2 separate regions of the Homo sapiens genome follow, and region 2 is linked to region 1. The links come from fine-mapping of genetic effects on gene expression. A gene starts in region 1. The other region holds a variant in brackets. All regions are shown on one strand. Distances are between the middles of the regions.

Region 1 (2,915 bases):
GTCCAGCATCAGAACTACAGAATGCTCAGATACAACTGCCATAGTTTTTCACATGAAAAAGTGGACTCAAGTCTTATTAAAGAACCGTTGGTAAAGGGGAAGTAAAACAAACAAACAAACAAACAAAACCAACTCCTTCCTTTAATGTACAAAAGGAAAATTCCAACCAATTCACAAACCAGTTGGGAGCTTAAAAAGCTACATGTTAAAAGCTGGATCTGCACAGCAACCCTCTTCCCTTCGTGCCTGCTCTGGAGTAGCAGAGTCAGAAAACAAAGTTGATATCCACCACAGAACTGTGGGGAAGATAAGATCAATGAAGAGATATATCTAAATAATAAGGCTTATAGGCAGTTAGCAATCAGAAACCGAAAGGTCTTGATAGAGAGGGAACAGAAGTTTCTCCATGTTCCAAAGAATATTGGTGTCTCAATTTGAAGGAACCCATATATTCTCTTTCAAAACTGGGGTGTTTATCTTGCTCTGCTGTGTTATCCCTGTTTTGACCTTTCTGCACAAATGAACACTACATTTAAGCCAAAATTGGACAGTAATCACCAGGATATGCTAATATGCTTTTAAAATGAATTCTTTCATTTTCTCCTAAAGTAGCTAAAAACTAATTTAGTGGTTAAAAACAACAAGAAACAAACAAAAACCAAACCAGTTGCCCCAGGTCTGTGCAATCCTGAAGGCTATAAAGCTCCCATCTCATAATTTCTTCATGAAAATCGTGGGTGACCAACATCTGCCAGCCAAAAAGACCCGTTAAAACCAAGAGAGGAAGAGGGGGTTGGAGGAAAAAAAGACAAGCGGGAGAGAAGCTGGGTGGCGCTGGCTGTCCTCCAAAATGATTTGTGGAAAAGGTACAATAATGACTGGAAGACAAGAACAGGCAATAAAAATGTCTAGAAGTTCTAAATTTTCCTGAAGTGTTTAAAACTCTATTCCCACATACAAGCCAAGTGCTCTACTCCCAGGAATATAACAGCAGCATAGGGCGGGGTGCGGAGCCACAGGCTATCTCAGGGCGGGTCAAACCCGCAAGTTTCTCAGGTTTGCCCAAAAGGTAGCTCGACATGCCCTCGCTAGAGATGGGGAGACTCCAATTCTCATTCCTCATTCTCGTGTCCAGGAGCTTTCTGAAGGCCCCAGGGCCTGATAGAAAGAAAGAGAAGGAAAAAGTGGAAAGGAACCAAAGGAACCATAATCCGTAGAAACTTCCAAAAGCATGCACACACAGACACACAGCGATACACTGTTGTCCTGGAAACCAATCCAACCAACTAACCCCTCCTCGGGAGCCTAGGGGCCAGCTCTTTTGGGCAAGGGTGGTGGGCCGGAGGAATAGGGACTGGGAGAAAGGGGTACTATTTCGCGCGGCTCCGCTCTGGGCCTCTTTTCCCTGGGCGCCTACCGAGTAGAGGAGCACGACAGCGCTGGGACTGGTTGGGCCAACGGAGAAATAAGAGTTAGATGAACTGGAAGACTCCATGGTGCGGCTGCCTTCCCGGGCGGGGTCTGGGATTCTTTGCTAAGCCGTGGTGGTGCTCCTGCTGGGGGCGGTTCTTTCGCTCAGGACGGCCCTACTTCGCCTAGGGCGGCGGCACCCTCTGCAGCCGCTACACAGGATCCCGGGCGCCGCCATCTCAGCCAGGACGGAAGCCGCGCAGGGCCCTGCAGCGCATGCGCGCAGTCGCGGAACCCGGAAGCGGGGGTGCAGCGCGGCAGAATGAGGGTTGATTCCTCGGCTGACCCCACAATGTCGCAGGAGCAAGGGCCGGGGTCCTCCACGCCTCCCAGTTCTCCGACACTTCTTGACGCTCTGCTCCAGAACCTTTACGACTTTGGTGAGTGCGGGGTCCCAGGAGCCCACGTGGAGAACAGATTTGAGGAACGTGGGTCTCCTGTGTTGCCCGTCCTGGGTTGGCCTCTGCTTTGAGGCTAAAGGTTCTTGCATGTCAAGCACCCTTCGTCCCACCTGGTTCCAGTAGCGAACACATTTCTCCATCGGAAGTCACCCCTCGACCGGGCTCTGCTGAGTTATTCATCAAACCTTCCAACTCGTCCCCAAGTGTGGGGACCATCCTACTTGCTTGTAGGAAGCACCAAGGCTTTCCGATTTAAAAGTAGCCCGCTTTTCCACGTTTTCTTGAGCCCTGGGAAGTCCCCTTTCCCCATGCCACCCCCAAGACCTGCCTGACCCTGGTGCGATGGTGTCATTTCGCTCTGGGGCCTCGGGCCTGTTGGATAATACACCAGCTTCATCCTTGTGTGTCCCTCTCCAGAGACATCATAGTCCTTGGCGAGTTGTCCTTTTCACGACTTTTTTTTTTTTAAACAAGTGCGCTGATCTTTTACTCTCCGTTCTTTGTCTTGATGGGGGAAAAGGAAAATAAAAGAGCCTATTAAAGTCGCATGGCATGTCAGTAGGAAGACAGTGCCTCATACTCTGAAGAGCTTTCCCGGGAGAAGGTGACACCCTTTGCACATGCACCAAAGAAAATCATTAGATTTCAGGACAACACACATTTCTTAAATTTACAGCGTGATATTTTAAAAGCTATTTTTATTTTGGAATGACTGCTCAAAATTCTAAGTTCACCTAAACAGTAGGAATAATAGTTAAAACTGTTGAGAACTTGCCATATAGCACATGCTTTTCGTGTATTTGCTCATTTAATTTTCAACTTCATGAAATAGACACTGTCATAAATCCATGATTGCAGATGTAGAAACAAGTACTAGAAGTTCATGAAACCTGATGCAGGTTGTCTGACTGGTAATTTTTGCAGAGCCTGGGTTCTGATTCTAGCCCCAGACCCCATGCTTGTATTAACTAGCATTTCTGTGCCCTTGGACATATTGGAGGACAGAGAAGACTTAGTCTCTGACCTTGAGAAGTTTAAAATCTA
Region 2 (2,915 bases), 560 kb before region 1:
GCTGCTATGTTGCAAGAGGTCCTAGGGCACAGCTCTTGTGGCAAGGAACTGAAGCCGTCTGTTAACAACACATGCATGAGTTTGGAAGCAGATCTTTCAGCCCCAGCCAAGCCTTTAGACGACTGCAGCTCCAAAGTGTGTCTTAACAGCGACCTTATGAGACCCTGAGTCAGAGCCACCCAGCTAAGTCACTCTGGACTCCTGTCTCTCAGAGACTGTGAGAGATAAAGGTTTGTTGTTTCAAGCTATGAAGTTTGAGGAGCCACTTATTACACATTAATAGAGATGCATACCAGTGTCTGAATTCAGACCTTAAGAATAAGAAATTTCCATTTCCTTTCTCTTGGGACACTTGCTCTTGGAACCCAGCAGCCATGTTGTAAGGAAGCCAAGCTGCCTATAGAGAGGCCCACATAGAGAGCACTCAACAGCCAGACCATATGTATGCACCGTCTTGGGTGTGGATTCTCCCACCCCAGTTGAGCCACCCTAGCTGTCCCTGCCAAGCCCTGCCCAAATTGTATTTCCATGGGCAAAATAAATAACTGGTAATATTTTAAGTCACTACGTCTTAAAGTGACTTATTTTTTATTAGGCAGCAGTAGATAATGAAAATAGATTTTGGTATCTGGATATGGGATACTATTGTAACAAAATCCTAAAATCGAGGCATTGGTTTTGGGACTTGGTAGTAGGCAGAAGCCTCATGGGCCTCCGTGAAGGATAGAAAAAAGTAAGAAAAATATATCAGAAACTAGAAAAAAAAAGATCCTTGTAGTGGCAAAAAAGTCACTCAGTTACCAACTGAGGCAATATAAAAAAGAGTCCCTAATAATTGTAGTTAGACATCCAAGGAGATTTCCAGGCAGAATACAGAAGTGCCCACTGACCTCCTGTCAATGCCTGTGATGAAATGCAAGAGAAGAGAGATGAATTAAAGAATAAACTGTTACATGTAAAGGAGCTAGATCTGGCCAGGTTTGAAAATGAAACTAATTTGTTATTCCTACTCTCTGCAAATGGCAAATAGTTCTCAAATTAAGAAAGGACCTCAGGCCATAGATCAAAGTCAGGATGGATGTATTAGTCCTTTCTCACACTACTATAAAGATACCACCTGAGACTGGGTAATTTTTAAAGAAAATAGATTTAATTGACTCACAGTTCCCCATGGCTAGGAAGGCCTCAAGAAACTTACAATCATGGCGGAAGGCAAGGGGAAAGCAAGGCACCTTCTTCACAAGGTGGCAAGAAGAATGAATGCAGGAAGAACTACCAAACACTTGTTAAACCATCAGATCTCATGATAACTCACTCACTATCACGAAAACAGCATGGGGGAAACCGCCCTCATGATCCAAACACCTCCCACCAGGTCCCTCCCTTGAATGTGGGGATTACAATTTGAGATGAGATTTGGGTAGGGACACAGAGCCAAACCATATCAATCAGTCTATAAATCTAAGCGAATCATAGAAACTTGAAGAGAGACAAAAGACCCCCTAAGAATCTTAAGGACCTCCCTTAAGATCCTCTCCATTCAGGGCAGATCACAAGGTCAGGAGATTGAGACCATCCTGGCTAACACAGTGAAACCCCGTCTCTACTAAAAATACAAAAAATTAGCCGGGCGTGGTGGCGGGTGCCTGTAGTCCCAGCTACTTGGGAGGCTGAGGCAGGAAAATGGTATGAACCC[A/G]GGAGGCAGAGCTTGCAGTGAGCCGAGATCGCGCCATTGCACTCTAGCCTGGGCGACTGAACGAGACTCTGACTCAAAAAAAAAAAAAAACCAAGATCCTTTCCATTCAATAGGGCTTTTAAGAATCTTACCTAATGGAGTGAGGGTTTGCCCATTCTGAAGGTATTGAAACAGGAGAAAACAGAAATAGCATTATATGCAGGAGTTGCAAACAAATGTTGACCACCTTAACACTAGTATCACCTATGGGGACAGCCCATTGACTGAAAGGCCGGTCCACCAAAGAGCATACAGAGCAACCAGAAAATAGTGAGGTCAAAAGGTCAGTTACCAGGAGGGTTAATTCAGGTCATCCTTCAGCAGATCAGGCCTCACCAATTTTCTCAGCTGACCAAAGAGCTAAAACAGGAAACCTGCGCCATACGCAATATACCATCTTGGGCATTTTCCCTGGAGTCTGAAGAGAGATTGTTCACATTGGAGTGAGGCTATCTCTGCTGCCTGAATTATACATTTCTTCCCTTGGGCTTAACACAGACTCATCCACCGGTATTCCTGGGAAAGATATATTGATTAAGAAAGGCAAAAACCCTAACTCAGAAGCAAGACTGTGTTCAATCTTCTTTTTTTTTCTCTCAGCAAATGGGCCCATAATTTCAAGTAAATGGCATGTGAAGCTGTTAAGAGCCAAGCCCCACATTTGCGCTGCCATGTTCTACTGGTTGTAAATAATACGCGTGACTGCACCAGGGACCAAATTGCTCTTTAGCTGCCAACATTAGTTGTTTAATGATCTGAGGAGCAGAAGCTGCCAATTATTGTATTCCTTCTTAAAATACCATTTAAAACACATACATGTAATTATTATAACTTTTTGTTAAATTTTTATGATTCTTTTGAAGCTGATGAGCTCTGGGTCCATTCAACCTATAAAACTCAGAGAACTTTTTGAAGCTGTCATTACATAACTGGGTTAAAAATCCATATATAATACACCGAGAGAGGGCCTGGACTTTAGCCCCAGATCTGCCACTGCTTAGCTAATTGAGTGACCTTAACCAAAGGACACATCCCGCAGCCTCAACCTCCCCATCAGTCCATTCGGATCACGGTCTCTCTCCCATCTACCTAATATAGCAATTGTGAAAATAAAATAACAAATCCAGAGGAGTGTTTGAAAGCACTAATGATAGGATAAGATACTGTTTTCAGAGACTCT

The links. PIP is the estimated chance that this variant, and not a neighbour inherited with it, causes the effect. A credible set is the group of variants that fine-mapping cannot tell apart.
Region 2: its variant is the best candidate, but not a certain one, in a credible set for the expression of GNPAT in esophagus mucosa (GTEx, PIP 0.84).

What each region holds. Positions count from the first base shown.
Region 1 is chr1:231,239,959-231,242,873 of GRCh38, reverse strand. GNPAT (glyceronephosphate O-acyltransferase) reads right to left here and starts at 1,662. Exons shown (of 16, transcript NM_014236.4): 1 at 1,418-1,662. The coding sequence starts at 1,495. It overlaps FSAF1 (40S small subunit processome assembly factor 1), which reads left to right and starts at 1,699. Exons shown (of 7, transcript NM_152379.4): 1 at 1,699-1,850. The coding sequence starts at 1,733. RefSeq lists enhancers at 760-1,649, 1,630-1,969.
Region 2 is chr1:231,800,693-231,803,607 of GRCh38, reverse strand. All of the region lies in intron 8 of DISC1 (DISC1 scaffold protein), which reads right to left. All of the region lies in intron 11 of TSNAX-DISC1 (TSNAX-DISC1 readthrough (NMD candidate)), which reads right to left. Among named protein-coding and RNA genes, the nearest start is that of DISC2, 16 kb to the left of the region's middle. The variant A/G (reference allele first, on the strand shown) is at 1,697.